2 separate regions of the Homo sapiens genome follow, and region 2 is linked to region 1. Evidence: fine-mapped expression QTL. Tissue or cell type: whole blood. Region 1 holds a variant in brackets; the other region holds the start of a gene. All regions are shown on one strand. Distances are from middle to middle.

Region 1 (8,106 bases):
CTTTGGGTGTCTTCTCCCTGACCGTCTCCAGACCTTTACACTGGCCAGGATCCTGTCTTGTATTTGTATTCCTCCTTTTAGGTGGATCCCCGCATTGATATTCAGATGTGCTTGTCTCCTTCCCCTTCATAAACTACCTTTTTTTTTTTTTTTTTTTTTTGAGACGGAGTCTCACTGTGTTGCCCAGGCTAGAGTGCAGTGGCGCGGTCTTGGCTCACTGCAACCTCCGCCTCTTGGATTCAAGTGGTTCTCCTGCCTCAGCCTTCTAGGTAGTTGGGATTACAGGTGTCTCCCACCATGTCAGGCTAACGTTTGCATTTTTAGCAGGTGCAGGGTTTTTGCCATGTTGTCTGGGCTGGTTTGGAACGCCTGACCTCAGGTGATCTGCCCACCTTGGACTCCCGAAGTGCTGGGATTACAGCCATGAGGCAGCACGCCCAGCCAAGAGGGAAAGAGGGAGGGAGTGGGAGGCCAAAAGCCTACAGCACCTGGTGTTTCCCCGAAGGTGGGGTGGTAGTCTCCCATCCAAGTACCATGCAGGACCGGACCGACCCTGCTTTGCTTCTGGGATCAGACAAGATCTAGCACATTCAGGGTGGTATGGCGGTAGACCACAAACTTCTTAAAGATCATTTATGCAGCTGGGCGCGGTGGCTCACTCGTATAATCCCAGCACTTTGGGAGACCGAGGCAGGCGGCTCACCTGAGGTCGGGAGTTGGAGACCAGTCTGACCAACTTGGAGAAAGCCCCATCTCTACTAAAAATACAAAATTAGCCGGGCTTGGTGGCTGTCACCTGTAATCCCAGCCACTCAGGAGGTTGAGGCAGGAGAATCGCTTGAACCCGGGAAGTGGAGGTCGCGGTGAGCCGAGATGACGCCACTGCACTCCAGCCTGGGCAACAAGAGCGAAACTCCGTTTCAAAAAATAAAGATCATTTATGCCTCCTCTCCCATCACACATGATCAGCCCATTTCAGTCTCTGTTTCTGTCCCTGTGTTTGTGGAATAGCTCTCCCTGAGGCTGCCAGTGACCTGTGTTTGTACAAAATCCAATGTACATTTTTCAGTCCTCATTTTACTTGGCCATTTAGCAGTTCTCAGCACGGTTGACCAATCATTTTCCATTCTCCTGGTTTCCCTTTTTATCCTCTCATTCTCTTTTGGCAACCTATTTTCCTTTTTGGCCACTAGATATTGAAGTTCTTCAGGCTCTTCTTGTCTACTCACTTGACAGTTTCATTGAAGCCTATGCCTTTAATTTCCACCGATACACAAATGACACAAATTTCTCTCTCCTCCAGGCTGGACTCTCATGTATTCATCTGTCCACTTTCCTTCAGATGTCTCCAGGAATCTGCCCGGACCTAACCTCATGGCCACACACTCCCCCTGTCTTCTGTTCTCCATCCATTCGGTTCTTGATTGCTCTCTTTCCTTTCTACCACCCCCTTTCTGACTAATTCATCAGCAGGTCTTGTCGACACTACCTCTAGCCCTTATCCTGAGTTGTCCTCTTTTTCATCTGCACAGCCATCGTCCTAGTCCCAGTTATCCCCTCTTTCTTACCTGCATTCCCAAGGACGTTCCTTAGCTGGTATCCCCATGTACCCTCTAGTTTCCCTGAAGTTTGTTCTCTATAGTATAGCTAGAATTACGCTTTCAAAATGCAACTCTGGGCCGGTTGCGGTGGCTCCTGCCTGTAGTCCTAGCACTTTGGGAGGCCAAGGCAGGCGGATTGCCGAGCTCAGGAGTTGGAGACCACCCTGGGCAACATGGTGAAACCCGGTCTCCACTAAAATTAAAAAAGGCTTCAGCATTGCTTGAACCTGGGAGGTAGAGGTTGTAGTGAGCTGAGATCATGCCACTGCACTCCAGCGTGTGTTGCAGAGTGAGACTCTGTCTCAAAAAATAATAATAATAATGCAACTCTTTTTATGCATCCCTCTGCTTAGTATCCTTTAATAGCTTCTCATTGCTCTTATGATGAAAACCCAATCCTTAGTATGGCCTTCAAGGCTCTATGTGGTCTGGCGCCTCTTACTCACAAACTGCATCTTGACTTCTGTGCCACGCTGCCCTTTTAGGGTGAATGTGCCATGCTCCCTGTCACCACAGGGCCTCTGCATATACTGTCCCCTCTGCCTGGAAAGGGCATTCCCATCCTTCAGCTTATTAACGCCTGCTGTAATTTCAGATCTCAGTCAGTCTTCACTTCCTTGGCTAAAAGCCTAGCATGATCTCCCTGAATAGGTTGATCCCCCTGTTGAGCTTTTTTGTGTAGCATCAATTATACCTGAAGCACACATTGTACCTTGTTTTTCTTTGTGTGATTGTTTAAAGTCTTGTCCCATCAGACCTGAAGCATTGTAAAAGGGCAAAGACAGTTACGATTACTTTTGTATTCTCCAGCTCCTAGCACAGCGCTTGACATGTAGTAGGTGCTTTGACAGATACCCAGTGGGAATTGCATGCAGGGTAGAGGAAATAGCGTCTGCAGGGCGATAGCATCTGCAGGGCATGAGAAACAACAGCATTTTGGAGAAAACTAACACATTGATGGCTAAAGTGTGGGTTTTGCAGAAGACAAGTGGTAAGAGATGAGGCTGGAAGGGCAGGTAGGGCCCAGGCTGTGAAGGGCCCTATTTGGCCAGTATTGGTATTTGGACCCATAGGATGTGGGCAGCTAGTAATCTCCCCTACTTGGGGAAGGAGGAATAAGCATAGGATGAGGCGTGAGCCTTGAGAGATTGGTGGGGCTTGGTCTACTTCTGATTCCCCTGCGTAGAAGACTAATGAGTTTTGACCCTTCTTTGTATCTTTTTCAGCCGCTACATCTGTTACTTTTGTTGGTGTTATGGGAATGAGATCCTACTACTATGGAAAATTCATGCCTGTAGGTTTAATTGCAGGTGCCAGGTACTTTCATTCTATTACTCTTCTTTACCATGTAGAGTTCAGTTTATTGCCCAGAATACTTTATGCATTCAAAACCTTACTTGTTTCAGAGTATCTGATGCTATGCATCAACTGACGTTTGACTTATACACTAATAGGAGATGCTTCAAAAACAATAGTTGATTTAATGTCAAATGACATGAGTATATCCATTCACTGTGGAGATGGCTTTGTTCTCTGGTCCTAGCTCCTTCCTATATGGTGGCAGAAGTTTTATTGCAAAGCTATGACTGCAGCCTTTTGTGTGACTTGCGGAGGATGTGTGGGGGTCCCATATTTCTTAGGTGTGTAGGTGTCTTTTGTAGAAAATTTTGCTAAAAGGAAATTTTGATTGAATCCTGTTTTCTAATTTTGATTATAATACCTAAACCAAATTGTGGTTTTTAAAAAATGTAGTTGTAGGCCAGGCACGGTGGCTCACACCTGTAATCCAAGCACAGTGGGAGGCCATGGCGGGCATATCACTTGAGGTCAGGAGTTTGAGACCAGCCTGGCCAACATGGTGAAACTCCTCTCTATGAAAAATACAAAAATTAGGTGGGTGCGGTGGTGCACGCCTGTAATCCCAGCTACTCGGGAGGTCGAGGCAGGAGACTTGCTTGAACTGGGGAGGCGGAGGTTGCAGTAAGTTGAAATCGTGCTGCTGCACTGCAGCCTGGGCAACAATGAGTGAGAGTCTGTCTCAAAAAAAAAAAAAAGTTCACTTGTTAAGTATGATAAAGACATCCTGAAGGCAGGGGAATTTTTAAAATCCTGTTTTCAAGAAAGATTACATACTCTACTCTGATCATAGTCGTGATGCTGCCAGTATAATATTTTATACCTGAAGCAAAAGAGTCAGTATGGAGCAAGGTCTAGAACAGTAAACTGAGAGGCTGGAGTCTACCATAAATCAGATCTGTGATGGTGGGGAGGCCTTGCT[T/C]TCTCTTGCCTCCATTTCTTCATCTCTTCAAATTACTGGCAGTTGGATTAGGATCTAGCTCATGTGTGCTATTTTAAGACCTCAGTGAAACTGTCCCTTGGCTTGCTTTTTCTCTGGTTCCCCCAGGGATGGAAATTTTACCTCTGACCACTCTTGCCTTAGTACCTCCTCCCCCACACAGTTGTGAGGAACCTGCAGAGTTTAGTTCCTTAAAAACATAGTTGCCTGTTCTATCCTTTACCTGATGTTTTCTATCTTACTTGTTTTAAACAGTTTGCTGATGGCCGCCAAAGTTGGAGTTCGTATGTTGATGACATCTGATTAGCAGAAGTCATGTTCCAGCTTGGACTCATGAAGGATTAAAAATCTGCATCTTCCACTATTTTCAATGTATTAAGAGAAATAAGTGCAGCATTTTTGCATCTGACATTTTACCTAAAAAAAAAAAGACACCAAATTTGGCGGAGGGGTGGAAAATCAGTTGTTACCATTATAACCCTACAGAGGTGGTGAGCATGTAACATGAGCTTATTGAGACCATCATAGAGATCGATTCTTGTATATTGATTTTATCTCTTTCTGTATCTATAGGTAAATCTCAAGGGTAAAATGTTAGGTGTTGACATTGAGAACCCTGAAACCCCATTCCCTGCTCAGAGGAACAGTGTGAAAAAAAATCTCTTGAGAGATTTAGAATATCTTTTCTTTTGCTCATCTTAGACCACAGACTGACTTTGAAATTATGTTAAGTGAAATATCAATGAAAATAAAGTTTACTATAAATAATATTTCCTATGGTGTCTTCATTGCCAGAGCTGGTCTAGTTCATAGAATGAGATGTTGCTAGATATAGAAACTTGAAAGTATTTTGTTGATATTTAGAAATTACCTATTTTGAGTAATTTAAGGACCAAGGAAAGTTATTTGATTGTACATTGCATTGAAGCTTGTTTCAAAAATGATCTCTGAGGATTTTTTTGTTTGTTTTTTAAGAGACAGGGTCTTTCTCTGTCACCTAGGCTGGAGGGCAGTGGTACAATCATATCTCACTGTAGCCTCAAACTCTTGGGTTCAGTCATCCCACTTCAGCCTCCTGAATAGCTGGTACTACTGGTGCATACCACCTCGCTAATTTATTTTATTTTTTTGTAGAGATGGGGTCTTGCTCTGTTGCTCAGGCTGCTATCAAACTCCTGGTCTCATGCGATTCTCTCTCCTTGGCCTCCCAAAGTGCTGGGGTAATGAGCATGGCCACTGAGGATTTCTAAGATTTAGGACTGTGTAGCAAAAAAAGAAGAAGAAAAAAAGTGGTTTTTTTTGTTAATTAGTTCATATATAATTGTGAAACTAGAAGACCCATCTAGAGCTTGAATCACCTAGTTTGGGCTCTACATTGGACACATTTACTGGATACTGGTACGTTTTTAGTTCACTTTATTCATGTTTCAACATGAAGAATTAACTCAATCTGGTGCCCTTTGTTTTAGTTTTCATTCCCTCTTTAAAAAGGTAAGGAGCTGGGCGCGGTGGCTCACGCCTGTAGTGCCAACACTTTGGGAGGCCGAGATGGGTGGATCACCTGAGGTCAGGAGTTTGAGACCAGCCTGGCCAACATGGTGAAACCCTGTCTCTACTAAAAATTCAAAAATTAGCTGGGTGTGGTGGCTCATGCCTGTAATCCCAGCTATTCAGGAGGCTGAGGCAGGAGAATTGCTTGAACCCAGGAGGCTGTGGTTGCAGCGAGCCGAGATCACGCCACTGCACTCCAACCTGGGCGACAGGGTGAGACTCTGTCTCAAAAAAAAAAAAAAAGATATTTGCTACTGATTTACCCTAACTGATACTGGTTGAGTTTAGAGTATAATTCAGACACTTTATGTATTTGCATAAGCCCCTGGATGGTGGTCCTAGTTTTCCATCCTTTTTTATAGGACTCTGGACAATTAAGGGCTCTTGTGTTGCAGTGGTAGAGGCATCAGAAGGCCACAGATCATCCAAAGCTATCATCCTCCCAGGCTTCCATAGCTAAGATTTTGAGTCTCAACGTTGGCCATTTTTTCATGTGTCATGGAGTGTTTCCAAAGGGCACACATTTTTGCCACCTTCAGTCCTAGAGGAGGACCTGGCTCCTCATGAATGACAAGGTTCCCTGAATGTGGGAATTAGTTTAGGTGCCAAGTAGATCCCCATGTGACTATTTGATCCCCAGCAATCAGCCTGGAAAATTCTAAGGCTGCCCACAGATGAGAGGCAGGAGATCTTCATAGCCCTTGCCAAGTGCCCTCATCCCTGCTTCTCTGCAAAGATCCCTGAGTATTTACTGCCTAAGGGTTGTGCTGGGTCCTAGCAGTGCAAAGAACAAGCCATGGTGCTTGCCCTTCTGGAGTCTGGTGGAGGAGGTGGACATCTAAACAAAGGCAGTATAGAAATAAGTGTATGATGGAGGTAGATCCATATTACTGTGGGGGCACAAGGAGGGGAGTGGGCATTTCTGTTGAGGGAGTCAAGGTAGGCTTCACAAAGGAACCAACAGTTAAGCTGAGTCTTGTCAGTTGATGCATGAATCAGTTGACATGAACTCCTTTTGTGAGTTGTCTGAGAAATTCATAGGTAAGGACGGGGCAAATGTCTCAGAGCGAGCAATATATACAGTGCCTCAAAGGCATGAAACTATGTAGCATAACTGGGTTCAACCCTTTCCTTAGAGATCTAATTCTTTTTTTTTTTTTTTTTTTTTTTTTTGAGATGGAGTATGGCTCTTGTTGCCCAAGCTGGGGTGCAATGGTGCGATCTCAGCTCATTGCAACCTCCACCTCCCAGGTTCAAGCGATTCTCCTGCCTTACCCTCCTGAGTAGCTGGGATTTCAGGTGTGCACCACCACACCCAGCTAATTTTTTGTATTTTTAGTAGAGATGGGGTTTCACCATGTTGGCCAGGCTGGTCTTGAACTGACCTCAGGTGATCCACCTGTCTTGCCTCCCAAAGTGCTGGAATTACAGGCATGAGCCACCGCACCAGGCCAAGATCTAATTCTTTTTAATGGCTTTTAAGTTGTACGGATGATTACTATTTAGTTTACTATTCCCCTACTGATAGAAATATGTCTTGTTTAATGCCTTTGATAGCCGGGAGCAGTGGCTCATGCTTGTAATCCCAACACTTTGGGAGGCTGAGGTGGGCAGATCCCCTGAGGCCTTTGATATTACAAAGGATGGTGTACCAAGAAATATCCTCATGGAAATCCCCGTGAACATGTGCAAAGGAATCTGTAGGTTACATTCCTAAATGCTGAGTCAGAGCATCTCAGCATTTAAAATTGTGATTGCCTTCAGAAGAGGATGCACCAATTTATCCTCCCACTAGTGGTGGCTTTGTGTAATTGGACTTTGTAAAAATCTTTGACACATTAAGCTGGAAGTCTGCAAACTTGTTCTGTAAAGGGCCAGATAGTGAATATTTTAGGCTTCTCAGGCCATCTGTGTCCCAGCTGTTCACCTCTGCCTTTGTAGAATGAAAGCAGCCACAGCCAATCAATAAACGAGTGTGACTGTTCCAATAAAACTATGTATGGGCCCTGAAATCTGGATTTCATATGATTTCTACATATCACAAAATAGTCTTATTTTGATTTTTTTCAACCATTTCAAAATGCAAATCTATTCTTAGCTTGCTCTCTGCACAAAAACAGGCAATGGACTAGAATTGGCTCACTGACCATAGTCATGCCTGTAAGAGTTAAAGAAAGAAGAAAGAAACATGAAACGTGGCTTTGTAGTCAAAGACAGGTTTTCTTTACTTAAAACCTGAGAGGCTTCCCGGCTAATTTCGGTTAGGAGCACTTTCTCTTACAGACCCTGCACTTGATGGATCACCTGGCACCGCCCAAATTGATAAACTGGCTCATCTGATCTTGTGGCCCCCATCCAGGAACTGACTCAGTGCAAGACAACAGCTTGCACTCCCTATGACTTAATCTCCCACCGGACCAGTCAGCACTCCTGAGTCACCTGGCTGCCCCTGGCACACCAAGTAACCCTTAAACACTTCAATCCTTGAATGCTCTGGGAGACTGATTTGAGTACCAATAAAACTCCAGTCTCCTGCACAGCTGGCTCTGCGTGTGCTCTTTCTCTATTGCAATTCCCTGTCTTGATAACTCAGCTCTGTCTAGGCAAAGGGCAAAGTGAACCCATTGGGCCATTACAAGATTTTGTGTCTTTGGAAAG
Region 2 (8,106 bases), 81 kb after region 1:
TTTAACATTTATCTTACTTCATGTAGGTAACAATCCCTTCAAAGGCACATATAAAATAATTTAGGCTAGCTAACTCCATGGCCAGGATCTTGAAAAAGAGAACATGACAGCAGATTCCATCTCTATTTAGGGGTTTCTTCCTTTTTGTCAGATTAAGCCCGAGCTAATAATCATAAGTACCAGCAAATGGTTCCCCATTTGCCTGAAAAAGAATAGTTTTGTAAGTCATTGTCACCTTATTCATAGACACTGATTCCAAATATTAAGGTGTTAATATAGAGAAAGGCAGTCTCTCTCTCTGCACGGTTCCTAATCAAAACATGAATTTGCTTTTCTTCATTTTGCCTTTATCTGTATAAGCAAATATAATTTGGAAAAATCTTTTGGGTTGTTTTGTTTTGTACTACGTTAAACAAAACATGGACTAAAATATATTTCTTCTCATTTAGGATTTTATTAAATCAGTATTTTGCAATTTATCACCAGCATATTCAATTGCTGTACACTCTTTTCTAGCTAGCCTATTTAAGGTGACATATATCTATCTCTTTTAGGAAATATGTGATCTCTAGGTTTACTGATTCTTTCTGATTAAGTAAGCATAAAGAGAATATATTTGCACAAAAGGCCATCATGTTCCTTATGACAGTAAGATCATAAAATAAAAACATGGAAGGATTAAATGACCTGTCTAGGATCAACTAGAGAATCAACGATGGAGTCAATCCAATAGTTGCATTTGGCTTGATGTTGTTGGTTTTTCAGGGTCGTCTCCAACTTCTAAACAAGCCATTCTTATGAACTGGTGCCAGCTCTTACTATCCCTAATGAGGCTAAAGAAATCATCCTCTTTGCTCCAAAACCACACAGACTAAGCTCCACAACTCAAGCCACCTACCCCAACCTCCACCTTAAGATTCCTAATGCAGCTCTTCACTCAAACACTAAGATATTGCTGACTACCTGGAAAGTGAAGTGGGACTACTCCATATCCTGACTAAACCCTAATGCTACATCTGGGTCATTCAGACCAGTGAAAAATAACAGAAACAGTGAAGGGAAAGAGTGAGACCTTAGAACTTGAATGGTTAAGGGAGAAAGAATCTAGGTGGTGCTCCTCTCATGAAAATTATTATTATTATTATTATTATTGTTTGAGACAGAGTCTCACTCTGTGCCAGGTCCGACCCGCAGACCCTGGCTGAATGACAGATCAAAGAATGCACTCAGACACAGGTATCCAGTGAAAGAGCGGGCTAGGGGACCGGGCAGCACACAGACCCCAGGAGGGTGCTGTAAACCGTGGCCCTGCTCAGCTGGCGCTGTGGGCATTTATTCAGCACAGATTTAATGACAAAGGCTTTGAGTTAACACACTTGTGGGTAATTAACATGGTCGCACCGCTCCCCCGCCCCACGCAGTCCTGCGTCTGGATGATTAAAGGCCAGGTTCTGAGGCCTAAGTAAACTAACTTATCTAGATTAGTTTCTTTACATCCCCTTGTTATCTAACCTAAGCTCTTAAGAGAATTCAGCTGCCTTCAGCCAAATTTTCTTTTGAAGCTTTGCAAACCCCTGGCCTTCCAAGAAGGTTTGCATCTTTCTACGATTTTTCCCACCACCCTGACCAATCTCCTACAGCTCGGATGCCCAGGCTGGAGTGTGGTGGCGTTATCTCTGCTCACTGCAACCTCCGCCTCCCAGGTTCAAGGGACTCTCCTGCCTCAGCCTCCTGAGTAGCTGGGATTACAGGCGCGTGCCACCATGCCCGGCTAATTTCTGTATTTTTAGTAGAGACAGGGTTTTACCACGTTGGCCAGGCTGGTCTTGAACTCCTGACCTCATGTGATCCACCTGCCTCGGCCTCCCAAAGTGCTGGGGTTTATAGGCGTGAGCCACTGCGCCCAGCCATGAAAATTATTTAATTCAGAAACATAATGGTATGATAGCATCATCTTTTCTTTTAACCAAATTATTTTCATGTTAACACCTAACCAAGGACAAGCATTTGAGGGTCTAAAAGGTAGAAAAGTAATGCAGACAATTCTGAAAAAGGACATATGACTTGAGAAGGGAATGGAAGAGGGAGCTGCCTCTGGTTGCATGGTAATGATGGTAGCGAGTGTTATTCAGGAAGTGGAAACACAAAGAGTGACAAAAAAATCACCTTCATTGGCCCAACAATCTAAAAATTAAGAATTAATTACACCTCTCTCTTCCACTATTAAGGCCATCAGCCACCCCCATCACCACCGCCCTGGGGTGGGAGGGTGACCTGAAGCTGCACCAGCACTATCAGCACAATAGAGCATTCAGTCACTGATGACTTTCGACCCAAGCCTGCGTGCACAGTCTCTTTGCGAGTGGCTATTTTGGCAACTTCATTCCAAGCCTAACCAATCAACTTCTGAATAAACACCGGCAACACCAATTGTCTTTCAACGGATGATGGCTATAGGATAGGGTGTACTTATATTGAGGGAAGAATAAGCAAGGAACACGACCATTTCCCAGCTCCTTTCTGTTTGAGGGGTGGAGTGTTGAGGATTACGGACGTGACATAGATTTTTAAAAGGTCAGATTAGTGGTTCTGTGAGGATCTGTCCCATTTAAGCCCTACCTAACCTTTAAGTAAAACAACTTTACATACTGCGCTCCCTAAGAAAAAACTTTGGAAAGGCTTCTTTTGAACTACATTAATTACAAAATCAACAGCTGCCCAGGGTGAGACGCTGATCATTGCAACTGTTCCTTCTATCCCCTGAACATACAATTGTCTAATGTAGAGACATAGACATCAAGGTAAAGCTTTTAAAAAATCATTATTCCATGTCCCTGCTCCCTGATAGCACATAAGCAACTACTTTTATCAATGTGGCATAGCAACTACTGATTACTAATCAAAAAGCAGTCTATGTTCCTTAAACACAGGCTTCCCATGGTTCTCCAGTTCACGCACAATAATATTTCTCTACAAGTTACATATATTCTTCTCTGTTGACCTATGGAAAACTAATCTACAAAATAGGAATATATTAACACAGTTTCTTATGTACATGAATATATATAGATATGATACATATGCAACAAAAAACCCAAGTAAATATAACTATCATCCTCAATTTAACAGAATTGTTAAAAACTTGGAATTTTCTACAATCAAGCTATAACATTTATTGACCTTCCTATGGGTTAAAGAAAAAGATGCTTATTTAGAGGCTTAATTATAGACCTACACAAAAATAAATACCCTTATAATTTATCTCTCATTCTAGTTTTCAACTTTTTAATCTAAGTTCATAATTACCGTTTCTCTAAGTGCACAATTGTTGTAAATATAGCCTTTACTCTCAACAGCTTTTGCCAGCTAATAAGAGATTCAGATAGGATTAAAGAAGATTAGCAAAGAGGGCAAATGAAGGGTAAAACAAGCGTCTGCCAAAAACTGAAGAGATAAGGCTTGGATGTCTTCAACGTGGCTTTCTAGAACATATTATGTCACTCCGAGGCTGGCTTAACGCTTCTAATACACAACAAAAGAGTAATTAACGTTTTAAAAGTCACCAAACTCTTTAAAAAGCAACGCAGGAAAAAAAGATCCCAAACTAACCAAGTCGAAGTTTTACAGAAATTAAATGAGCTATTACAATGGGAAAACAAAGACTGTATCTTAAAATATAAAAGCACAGTTCTCTGTGCTCATATTCACAAATTATTTCAAAGCTTATACACAAAAAAAGTCCACCCCGACGAAGAGATTAAACGTCCTGCCCGGTGCCTGCAGTGGAAGCAGGCGGTGGCGCGGTTGGGGGAACTTTCTCCCTCCCGGTCAAGCCTCGGGAATTGAAGGGCCGGGGAGGCGGGGCCCGATCGAAAAGCTGGAAAGTCACTTTTGTTTTCACCATTATTTCACTTAATGGGTTGTGTTTCTGAATAAATAAAGTCAGATAACTTTGGCTTCCCTCTTTGAGAATTCCGTTATCATTAGAACAAATGTCTGTTTCTTTTAAACGATTATCTAACCACATTTGCATACAGCTCTTTCCTTGTAGGATTGAGATTACTAACCACTAAAAACCAGTTTTATTGCTCTCGACACCGCACTCTCGACCTGTCCCTAAATTAAAACGGATTACTTGCAGAAAAGGGACAGTTTTCGTCACACACTTTCTGATCCGACTCTGCAAACCAGGGCTCTTAAAAGGCTCCAGGGACCGCGTGGTGGAAGGAGGGGGCGTCCCCGGGCGCCGGGAGTCCGGCGCCGTTGGGGGGGACGGGGGTGTGCGGAATTCCACTTTCACCTGAGCGTCCTTTGGGATGCACCAGCGAGGGCTGGAGTCGGACCTAATTCCTGTTTTTCTCCCTCCTTTTAGATTTTGCAACAGTTCTGAACTCAGTTCCGCTGCCTCCCTGAGACCCAATCCTGCCTCTCTGTCCTAAAAACAGTTTCCACCGCCAGCCCAAGCAGCAGGGGAGCAGAGGTGGGAGATCCCGGAGGAGAGTTTAGGGGCGGGGGTCTCAGGCTAAGGGACGCCCGGCCGTCATCCTCCCACGCCAGGCCGGCCCCCGCGGTCCAGGAGGCGGGAAAGTGGTCAAGAGGTCTGGGAGACACCGACCGCCTTCCCTCGGGCTGACCACTCCCGCCCGCTCCGCCCCTCCGGGGACCCTCCTCCCTCCAGTCCTTCCCCTACCGGCGTCAGGGACCGGTCTCCGGGCGGAGATTGGCCCTGGTAGCACAGGGCGCCGAGGGGACATGCCCGGCCAGCCTCGCAGGTCGGGCTCCGGCTGGGTCGGACAGAGGGTGGTGGCCCTGCAGCCCGCTGGGGATTACCTGTCCGCGCCTGCTGCTTACCTCGTTCGCTCCCTTGTGAAGCTCCGGCGTCTTGTGTGTTTCATCTCCTAGGAAACGGCGGGGGCAGCAGGCGGGCCTACGGCCGGCCCAGAGAGGGCGTGGCCTCGCGGGAAATCCCCGCCAATTCCCGCAGGCCCCGCCTTCCCCGGGGCGGGGCTTCATGGAGCCGGGGGACTGTCGGCTGAGCTGCAGCAAGTGTGCCATTTAGACTTGGGGTTTAGGGGAGTTGATTACCTTTTCAGTCAGGTCTTTGTCAGAAGTTGGTTTGTTTGCCCTTTATTTTGTTTTGGTTTTGTTCCGATTCATTCTACAAAGTCTTGATTAATTAAAATATGGTTCCCAGACCGGGCAGAGCAAGAGAAGGAAGTCTGTTTGCCTCATACTTGCACTTGTTTACTTGTGCCTGGGGAAAAACTGTTCTTGTATGCAGTTCCTTAAATTGGTCAATTCCTTGGGTATGTATTACCTCTTGAGCTGCCCTTCTAAGTTTGTTTCCATTTATTCATTCAGAGAACCTGCCTAGTATCAGCCACAGAGTTAGATAGTGGTAATTCCAAGAAAAATGACTGAATGTGTGAATAAATGGGTAAATTGTAACTAGTCTAGAATTTAGAGAGGAAGGCACACTTGTGTTACTGCAAATAGTTCAGATTGGCTGGCAAAAAGGGTCTACGAAACAGAAACATAAGTGATGAAGCAGTGGTGCGGCAAGTTAGTAATTATTAGGTGTCAGGATGTGGGCTTGGGACCAAGAATAGCGCCAAGGTAGACACGACAGACATGCCTGTGGCCCTCACAGCTTAAAGTGAAGTAGGCTTTCACGCGTATGTTTATGGCAGCACAATTCACAATTGCAAAGATGTGGAACCAATCTAAGTGCCCATTGACTAATGAGTGGATAAAGAAAATGTGGTATATATACACCATAGGCTGCTACTCAGTCACAAAAAAAGAATGAAATAATGTCTTTTGCAACAACTTGGAAGAGTGGGAGGTCCTTATTCTACGCAAAGTAATACAGGCGTGGAAAACCAAAAACTGTATGTTCTCACTTATAAGCAAAAGCCAAGCTATGAGTATGCAAAGGCATACACAGTGAAATAATGGACTTTGGAGACTCAGAAAGGGGAGGATGGGAGAGAGCCTAGGGATAAAAAAAACTATGCACTAGGTACCATATACACTACTCAGATGATGGGTGCACTAAAATCTCAGAATTCACCACTATATAATTCATCTATGTAACAAAAAACCACTTGTACCCCAAGAGCTATTGAAATAAACATTTAAAAACAGACGGGGCTCAGTGGCTCATGCCTGTAATCCCAGCACTTTGGGAGGCCCAGGTGAGTGGCTCACCTGAGGTCAGGAGTTCAAGACCAGCCTGGCCAACATGGTGAAACCCCATCTCTACTAAAAATACAAAAAATATCTGGGTGTGGTGGCACATGCCTGTAATCCCAGCTACTCGGGAGGCTGAGGCAGGAGAATCACTTGAACCCAGGAGGCAGAGGTTGCAGTGAGCGGAGAACGTGCCACTGCACTCCAGCCTGGGTGACTGAGCAAGACTCTGTCTCAAAATAATAATAATAATAAATGGCCAGGCGCGGTGGCTCATGCCTGTAATCCCAGCACTTTGGGAGGCCGAGGTGGGCGGATCACCTGAGGTCGGGAGTTTGAGACCAGTCTGACCAACCTGGAGAAACCCCATCTCTACTAAAATGCTAAAACTACAAAAAATTAGCCAGGCGTGGTGGCGCATGCCTGTAATCCCAGCTACTTGGGAGGCTGAGGTAGGAGAATAGCTTGAACCCAGGAGGCGGAGGTTGCAGTGAGCTGAGATCACACCATTGCACTCCAGCCTGGGCAGCAAAAGCAAAACTCCGTCTCAATAATAATAATAATAAATAAAAGATTCATTGCTCTCCAATAAATAAGTGAAGTAGGCAGGCAAAGTAAAAAGCATAAGTTAGATAGGTCATAGCAGCTTTATATACCCAGTTATGAAGCCTAAGCTTTAACATGTGTCAATGAGGAAGACCAGTGAAGAATCTCCCACAGAAGAGTGACATGTTCACATTTGCATTTCAGAAAGATCCCAAGAGGAGCAGTGGGTAGGGTGGATTTGAGCTGCAAGTCTGGAGGCAAGAGAAAGATTGGGAGTCTTTCTCCCAACTGACTGGGAAGAAATGATAAGGATCCAACTCTAGCAGTGATGATGGAAATAGGACAGAGAAAGACAGAATTCAAGGGATGTTTAGGAGTTAAAATCGGCAGGACCATCAGGCTTAGATGACTGGTGGATAGTGGTATCCATGACCAAGTTGGAAAATAATAGAGGAGGAGCTGATTTAGGGATGGAGGATGTGAGAGATAACAAGCCCAGTTTTGAAATTTTTGAATTGAGAAAAATCCTTATGCAGATTACAAGAAGGGAGTTTGTAATATAGATTTGCAACTTAGGGTTCTTTTAGAGCTAGAAATACAGATATGTTGGGATACTGTGGATGAAATCATGGATATAGATGAAATAAACAGTAAGAAGAAAGAAGGGATGGGATTCTGGAAAACTCCATCCTCTAAAGAGTGGAGAAAGAAAGAGTAGGGGTGAGGAAGAGACAGACTGAAAAAAGAAAAGTCAGGGAAGTAGTAGGAGATCCCTCAGAAAAATGATATTTCAGAATGAGGAAAGGTAGGTTTCCCAAAAGAAAGAGAAAGAGAAAGGAAGGAAGGAAAGAGAGAGAAAACAAAAAGAGGACAAACAGCATTTATTCCTTCTGAAGAACTCTTCTGTTTTAAAACAAGTAGAGCATGCACAAAACATATTTTTTGTCACGTTTCACAATAGAAGAATAAAAATTCTCCAAGCACTCCTAACCCCTTCTAAAAAGTACCTAATATCTGAGCAGAGCAGTGAACGTACCTGAAAGGCAAAGGTGGCCCAAAGGCAAATCCCATTTCAGCATTTCAACCAGCTGACGAAGCCTTGGACCCGTGGCAATAGGGCTGAGCTGGACCAGGGACTAGAAAATCAACCAGGGGAGCTTAGAAGGGGTCAAAGTGGTCCCAGGTCAGGAGCATCATCTGGATCCCAAAGGAAACAAACACAATCATCTCTGAAGAAGGCATCCTCAACTTAGGCCTCTAGGTTTTTCAAAAAATATGAGCTCATGACCACAGAGGAATGAACACCGTCAAATGAGAATCTAGAAAAAGCAACAATTATTCAGACTTTCCAGGATTTCTGAAATTGGA

Evidence for each region. PIP is the estimated chance that this variant, and not a neighbour inherited with it, causes the effect.
Region 2: MAK starts here. The variant in region 1 is fine-mapped to the expression of MAK in whole blood (TOPMed, PIP above 0.99).

Annotation. Positions count from the first base shown.
Region 1 is chr6:10,752,315-10,760,420 of GRCh38, forward strand. TMEM14B (transmembrane protein 14B) reads left to right here. Exons shown (of 6, transcript NM_030969.5): 5 at 2,828-2,918; 6 at 4,153-4,667. The coding sequence ends at 4,204. It also overlaps the pseudogene RNA5SP203. Among named protein-coding and RNA genes, the nearest start is that of TMEM14B, 8.6 kb to the left of the region's middle. The variant T/C (reference allele first, on the strand shown) is at 3,880.
Region 2 is chr6:10,833,652-10,841,757 of GRCh38, forward strand. MAK (male germ cell associated kinase) reads right to left here and starts at 4,888. Exons shown (of 15, transcript NM_001242957.3): 1 at 4,852-4,888. RefSeq lists a silencer at 4,951-5,080 and enhancers at 5,301-5,360, 5,411-5,570.